2 linked regions of the Homo sapiens genome follow. The gene in region 2 interacts genetically with the main gene of each other region. Each region holds a gene or a part of one and is shown on either strand. Other genes may lie near its edges. The genes, in order: TEC and GNA12.

Region 1 (3,821 bases), on a different chromosome or scaffold from region 2:
AGAAAAAGAAAAGAAAAGAAAAATGTCAAATTGTAAGTTTGGCCAGAAAAATAAATACAAGATAACTTGAGCCATTTCACTGAGCCAGAAAGTAGGAAAGAAAAACTAACAGGATCCTCTACCAAAAACAGCCACCATCGACCTAATTTGGCCAATTCAAGCAAAGAGAATAATGGTGGCAATGGATTGGAACCAAATATATAAGTATCCATAATAACACTAAAAATAAACTGTTGGTTACCATTGTTATCACTAGAGAAAGCTCAGTCATCAACTCATTATTCTGAAAACTAGTAAAAGTTTAAGAATCCAAATTTCATCTTTCCTTTCCTTCATGAACTAAATGAACTGGTATATGAGGCAGTTCTTCTTTAGAGAACTACTAAATGCAGATGGAATGACAAAATTAGGAAATCACCATTTTGTAACCCCTAATGAAATAATGACTCTAAGAAAGAATCATTAATGAACCCCCAAATCATCAGGGTAAATACCAATGAAGAACTTTATGACAGAGGAACAAGTCTGACACCTGAACCACTAAGCAATCTTAGCATTACTAAAAGTAGGACATCCAGAGATCACCTTCTAATGTGATCAAGCCTCTAGCTCTACTCGCCAGTTCACAAGAAATACAAGAAACACAGGCATATTAAGTGACACCACAAGAAAACAATCTGTTTCATCTAGATTATGGCTCATTTTAGTGTTAAATGACCTGCTTTCATCAATAAATCAAAAATGTAGAATAAGAGAAACATAAGAGATATATTAACCAAAATGCAGTGTGTGGGTCCTGATTTGAATAAACCAACAGTAAAAATAAGTATTAGAGCTAATCGGGGAAACTGGAATTACATAATTGGTTCCATCCTTAGACCTGGGCCAGAGAAGCTCTTGCTCTAACCCCACACTTTTGAGAGCTCTGCAAAAGTGCGTGTTCCCTCTGACCTGTGTTCCCATGCTCCTTTCTGGGTAACTAGGACCCCAGAACACCCTGCTCATTTCCAAGGTCTACATGGGCCTTCTACTGGGTCCATCTTCTAAAAAACAAATTGTGCTGGCTGGCCATGTGCATTCCCTTTCACTGAGGCTGAAGGTGTGGCCATGATGCGGGGTAGCTTTTGCAAGCCACGCAGTAAGAGTGTGGGTGTACAGGTTGGAAGATCCATATGGTACATGAGAGATAGAGCCAGGGCAGGAGGGAAGAAAGAAGAGAGGTAGCCCCCCCAGAGCCAGCTTTCCATGCACTGCAACATTCTGGCACAGAGCTCTAAATCCAAACCGTGCCTTTCTTGTCACTATGAAAGGGTATTTGTCAAGTTGGAGGATAAAGTTTGCTAGCTTGATTTATAACTCCTAAATACTTAGATATATGTTATGTGGATTCTCATTTGTACTCTTCCTCCAGGTACAAAAATATTAAGGGAAAGTCTACAGACGATCTTATTTAAAATACTGTTATTAAGAATGATAATGACATGGTGGTGTTTTTTTTAAGTCTTTAGAATTTAGATTTAGGAGTGAAATAACATGATGACTTGAATTTACTTTTAAATATTCTAGAAAAAAATGGAAGGATTAGACTGGCAAAATGTTGGTAATTTTTGAAGTCAAGCAAAAAGAGATTCTATTATACTATTATATACTTTTTGGATGCTTGAAAATTTCTACAACAAAAAAAAATTAAAAATAGAAATCAATCTTATACAGCATCCGATAAAGAGAAGCAGTGACAACCTTCCTGTAAACATGGAATAAAAGGTTAAGAGTTGCAAATAAGTTAATAATGCACAGCAAAACAGCACTCATATATGCACCATGCCTAGGAATCAAGCAGAAGAAAAGGACCCCGCCTAAACTAGAGGTTTCCACTGCTTCTCCAGAAGTGAACTGAGGAACAGTGACTTGAAATTGGGGCTGGGGCTGGGAGGTGAGAGGGCAGGTGGAAGAAGAGTGTGCTCTGGCAGGACAAAAAGTTCTCCTCTTCTCATCCACTGGAACTCAGAGTATAAGTGGGATTGCACTGCAGAGGTAAACACAGGATACAGAGTTTGCTTATGAAGCCTGCAAGATACTCATCCCCTACAGTTACCCCTATCTGCCCATATATTTATCAATGATAGGGTTGAAAGGACTGTTTTCTTTAAATCCTAAATTAACTTGTACAAAAAAAAGCTTGCTGTTTAATTTCCTGCATGTACATATATATATTTTATATATACATACACAAACACATATACACACATATAGACACACACATATACATATATATATATTCTCTTATTCCTCCATATATTCATGGAGAGAGAGAAAGAAGTGAGAAGAGGCTTCATTATACTGTGTATGTGTATGCATACACACACGCACATACACATACGTATATATAGAGAGAGAGAGTCTAAGAAAAAAATTACAATAAACTCTTAGAAAAATCTAAGATTACTTACTTATGGCAGGTGGGGACAAAATATAAAATTTAATTTCCCTCAAGGTCAAAATAATCACATTAAACATGTATCAGATGAGAAAGAGACCAATGTATTCTAACTTTTGAAAAGAAGTGATTGATCAATTCGCATTTACTGAGTGACCACTAAGAAAGGACTGTGTTACTACCAAGTAATAAGGTGTGCTTCCATTTATGGCTGGTGAAATTAGTCTCATTACACGATAGTTACGACTTATCTACTTCTCACTCAACACTTGACTCCCACCTACCCACTGCATATCACACACATAGAGGGAATACTTACCCATATTTATCTCTTGCTCTCCACCAATGAACATCATTCTTTTCTAAAATGAGATACTCTTGGCCTCTCTCTAATCTGAGATCATGTCCTTCTGCTGCTTGGAAATCATACATGGCTACAACGATTTCTTCACTATTATCTTCTTCTTCTAGTGGAATTGGTGGGGGAGGCCTTCGCTAGACAAGGAAGATAACATTTGAAAGTTTAGTCTTCTATATGAAACTGATCATGAATCAAAACACTAAATGAGTCATACATCACCACAGAATAAACTAGAAACTTCAAGTCTACTTACTATAATCCAACAAACTCTCATGAAGAAGAGTATTATAATTCCTGTTTCATAACTAAGGTAACAATGATTTAATTAACCCACTCAAAGTCACTCATATCAGATCAAGTCTTGAATGAGTCCAAAGTGCATGTTTCCTCCACTATACCCCACTCCTGAAAGGCATATCATTATATCAGTGAAGTCACTTCTTTGTCACACTGTGGTCTTAAGACTGAAATATTTATCTAAATCCCACTCCTCTTAATACAACTCTTTAAGTGAAAATAGAGGCAAAATGCCAGATGATAACAGGATCTCCAATGATAAAATCTCATACAATTAAATTGGTATTATTTGACACCACAAAAAATTGAAATAAGCTACAGCACATCTGCTTCTGAGACGATCCTAGGGAAAAATTGTGTCACATCAATGAATAAACCGCATACTCAGTAAGTCACAAACACTACCAAAACTTAAGACTTAAAGGCTTAAAATGTAAAGATTAACTATCAAAAGCTAAAGACCACCTACCTTCTTTGTTTCTGGTGCTGGAGGTAGTGCTTTTCTTATACCTGAAAATGCCAACAACAAAAACAGATTAAAATGCTATCTACCAATAATTGATAAAAATAAGATATGGGTAGTTTTAAGGAAAAGTGGAAGTTAACACATAGACAAGCAGCACACTCTGACCAACTCTGGTGTATGCTGCTTGTATCTCTATTCTAGAACAGAATTAAAAACTGCTATTATAGCTGGTTTGTATTTCTGCCTTTCTGAACGCACAA
Region 2 (3,821 bases):
CACTGACTACAACAGTATATTTTCTGTATCTTCACAAAGTCTCATGGTCTGAAGCATAAGATCGAACCAAAGGGACGACTACTGACCCACCTGTGGCCACCTTACCCTAATCACCCGCCAAGTGCACGTCTAGATTAAAAGCTCACTCGCTGGAGACAGGCTCATGTTTGGTCTTCTTCACTGCTATATCCCCAGCATGTAGCACCGGGTCTCACACAGTAGGTGATCCATGAATGCAGAATGAATGAATGAATGAGTGAAGAAGGGGAGAAACAAGCAGACTGGGCTTTGAGGCCCAAATTTCTCACAGTGATTACCAAGATGATGTGGCCTCAGGCACAGCATAACTGGTACGGGCTTACTTCCATGTCGTGACAATACAAGGGCTTGACTTCCTAAATTGGGAGGTCCCTTCCAGCACTGACACCCTGCACTGACGGAACAGGGCAAAGACAGAAGCCTGTCAAAGCTGCTGCACCATGCCGAATCCCAGACAGAAGCCTCACTCAGTACGATCAGCCCCAGACACTTCTGCTTCCTTCTTTGGAAAATCCTCAATTTCCATCCAAGTTCTAAATGAATGAGAATCTTCTTTCCCAGACTCTGTGAGTGTATGGGGAAAAGGTGTAAACCTCAATTTCACATTGAGATACTGACATGTATTTCCCAATTGTTTCTTCCAGCCCTGCTCTTTAGGAGATTAAAATTTCCTTTCTACCGCAACCACATCTTCCACTCTCTTTTGATTCTTTTACCTTAACTGTTAAAGTTAACTTGAGAAGGAATGTGCAGATGGAAAGGGGCTAGTAAAAACGTCATCCTTAAGATGCCCTGGAGGACATTAACATTTACAGGCAAAAGCCTGAGGAGAAACAGGCTATTTGCAGGGTCTCAATGTATCTCCCTAAGATATGTGTTAACAACACAGAGAAAATACTGACTTCCCAGTGGAGAAAGGTGGCCAACAGTGCCTCAACCAAGCAACCCAGGCTTGCATCACCAGCCACTGGACAATATCACGCACTTCCTGATCAGATGATCTGAGCAGGGCTCAACGGCACGCCTGCGGTTTCTGTGCCAAAAAAATGCATCCCCTCATCCTGATGACGAGAAAATACCAGACAAACCCAAACAGGAAGATTCTACACAATACCTGGCCAGTGCTCTGGACATGTCAAGGTCATGAAAGGCAAGGAAAGATCAAGGAGCTATCATGGACTGCAAGAGACCAAGGGGACACAATGACTAAACACAATGGGGGATTCCAGGCCAGGATCCAGCAGACAGGAGCGCGAGAGGAAGCAGCGGACAGGACGCGAGAGGAAGCAGCGGACAGGACGCGAGAGGAAGCAGCGGACAGGAGCGCAAGAGGAAAGGTGGGTCACATTCAGACAAGGTCTACAGTTAATTGATGCTTTCATACCGATGTCAACTTCTTAGTTTTAATAGTTGTATAGTGGTTAAGATGTTAACATTAGGGGGACTTGGGAGAAGAATATAAGGAAATTGAACTGAGGGGACTATTAGCAGACTATATAGCACCTCTCAGATGATTGAGAAAAATAAAAATTACTCTGCAGGAAAAGGATGGGTAAAAGATATGAATAGGGTGGGGCATGGTGGCTCACACCTGAAATCCCAGCACTTTGGGAGGCCGAGGCGGGTGGATCACCTGAGGCCAGGAGTTCGAGACCAGCCTGGCCAACATGGTAAAACTCCATCTCCACTAAAAAATATAAAAATTAGCTGGTGTGGTGGTGGGTGCCTACAGTCTCTGCTACTCGGGAGGCTGAGGTGGGAGAATCACTTGAATCCAGAGGTGGAGGTTGCAGTGAGCTGAGATGGCGCCACTGCACTCCAGGCTGGGCAACAGCGCGAGACTCCATCTCAAAAAAAAAAAAAAAAAGGAAAAAAAAAGACGTTTCCAATAGCAAAATATGAAAAACAGTTCAAAAGTACCTCAATGAAAGAAGGAATGGATCCTAGTATCTTTCCACAGTGGAGCATCAGACAGCAGTGAAAAGGGAAGAACCGCTGCTATGTGCCTCGCCTGATGAAATTCCAACATGTGGAGTGAAAAAGGCAAGTCACAGAAGCATATATACTATACACTAAGAAATGACTTATATGAAGGTTAAGAATCAGTAAAACTCAAGACTGTCGTGTTTACAAATAATAAATGGGTATTATGGCAAAATCATAAGAACGGCAAAGGATTCATGACTTCAACTTGACTCTGGGTGCTAAGGGGGCAAACGGCTGTGAGAGTGAGAGGCATTTCTGGATACCCTGGGTGTGTATTAATATCAGCTGTGCACATTTATGCTGGTTATCAGAAAAATTGTACATTTTACTTTATATACGGTTAATTTTGAAAGGTAGAAAAAAACAAAAAGCAAACAGGCAAAACCCCCCAGATTTTCTGGTTATAGATTCAGACCCCAAATGAATCTAAATAACTGGGCTTTGTGAAGTTTTTAGACCTTAAAACGAAAGGAACAAATCTGAAGGGAACAACTGGGAGGAGTTGGATTTGCTTCCGAGGCGCTGATCTGAAGGCGTTCGTGAGTTGCCCATACCCACAGGTCCAAAGTGGGAAGCTGTTGTGGGGGGTGTTATTTCCTACTATGAACAAGATCTCTAAAAAAAACTAAATTTCTCGGGTTGTGCCAATGCTGATGATTCTAAGAACCCTCCGTATTCCCAGAAGAAAGCTATTGATCTTACCTGAGTGGCTCTTGCTCCTTCCCCTCTTGAGCCTTTTATATAGCATCTGCCTCCATCCCGTGTTTTGGTTGTTGATCATTACAACTTACGGTGATTTAGAGCTTGCTTGGACTGTTACACAGTTTTTAAGGAAATTCAACTAACGGTCCAAAATAGTCATGTAAAAAACACACTATCAGGTGCCCAGCAAGAAGGCCTACTCACTCACCAGCTGAAACTCGCTTCTCCGGCTGAAAGCCTCCCTGATGCCAGAATCCCTCCAGAGTGCGCTCAGGGCCGGGACGTACAGCTGGAAGGTGGCCGGCTCCACAGGCAGCCCCGCCTTGTTCTCGAAGGCCATCAGGAACATCCCATGCTTCTCATTTTCAGAATACTGCCAAGGAATGCCAAGCTTATCTCGTGCATCAACAAGAACCCTTGAGCCCTAGAAAATAAAAGAAAGAAGAGAGGATTTAATTGCATTCCAAAGACTAAACCACGCTAGAGAAGCTCAAAATGGGCATCCATTGTCATAACGCAGAAAACTCACAAGCTCTGAGCTGTGCAGCCTGAGTCTGTCTCTTGGTTTGTTTGTTGTGATGTGGAAAGTCTTAACTCTCAGCAGTATAACCTCACCAAGACAGACGCACATGGCCGAGAGCAGTGGCTCACACTGTGAGCCTCCCCTTTGGGAGGCCAAAGAGGGAGGACTGCTGGAACACAGGAGTCTGAGACCGGCCTGGGCAACAGAGCAAGACCCTGCTTCTACAAAAAATTAAATCAAATTAAAAACAGCTGGGCTTGGTGGTGGCACACCTGTAGTCTCAGCTGAGCGGGGAGGATTGCTTGAGCCCAGGAGGTCAAGGCTACGGTTATCTATGATTGCTGCACTATATTCTAGGCTGGGCAACAGAGCAAGACCCTGTTTCAAAAAAAAAAAAAGAAAAGAAAAAAGAAAAAAAAGAAAACAGATGTACATAAGCACCACAGAAAGAAGTCTGCTTTCTGCTATCATTCATTTGCAAAGCTACTGGAAAAAAGACAACTGGGCGGGGAGGAGGTGGCAACAATTTCAGAAAATTTCACTGGAAAATGAAGTGTATCAGTAAAAAAAC

Evidence for each region.
Region 1: of GNA12 (region 2) and TEC, changing one enhances a phenotype caused by changing the other (phenotypic enhancement), as found in Homo sapiens cells (one study listed by BioGRID).

The regions. Positions count from the first base shown.
Region 1 is NC_000004.12:48,165,022-48,168,842, forward strand, and holds part of TEC (tyrosine-protein kinase Tec), read right to left. Parts: intron 3,606-3,821; coding exon 3,565-3,605; intron 2,933-3,564; coding exon 2,757-2,932; intron 1-2,756.
Region 2 is NC_000007.14:2,791,993-2,795,813, forward strand, and holds part of GNA12 (guanine nucleotide-binding protein subunit alpha-12), read right to left. Parts: intron 3,152-3,821; coding exon 2,936-3,151; intron 1-2,935. UniProt on the Homo sapiens protein: Guanine nucleotide-binding proteins (G proteins) are involved as modulators or transducers in various transmembrane signaling systems. Activates effector molecule RhoA by binding and activating RhoGEFs (ARHGEF12/LARG).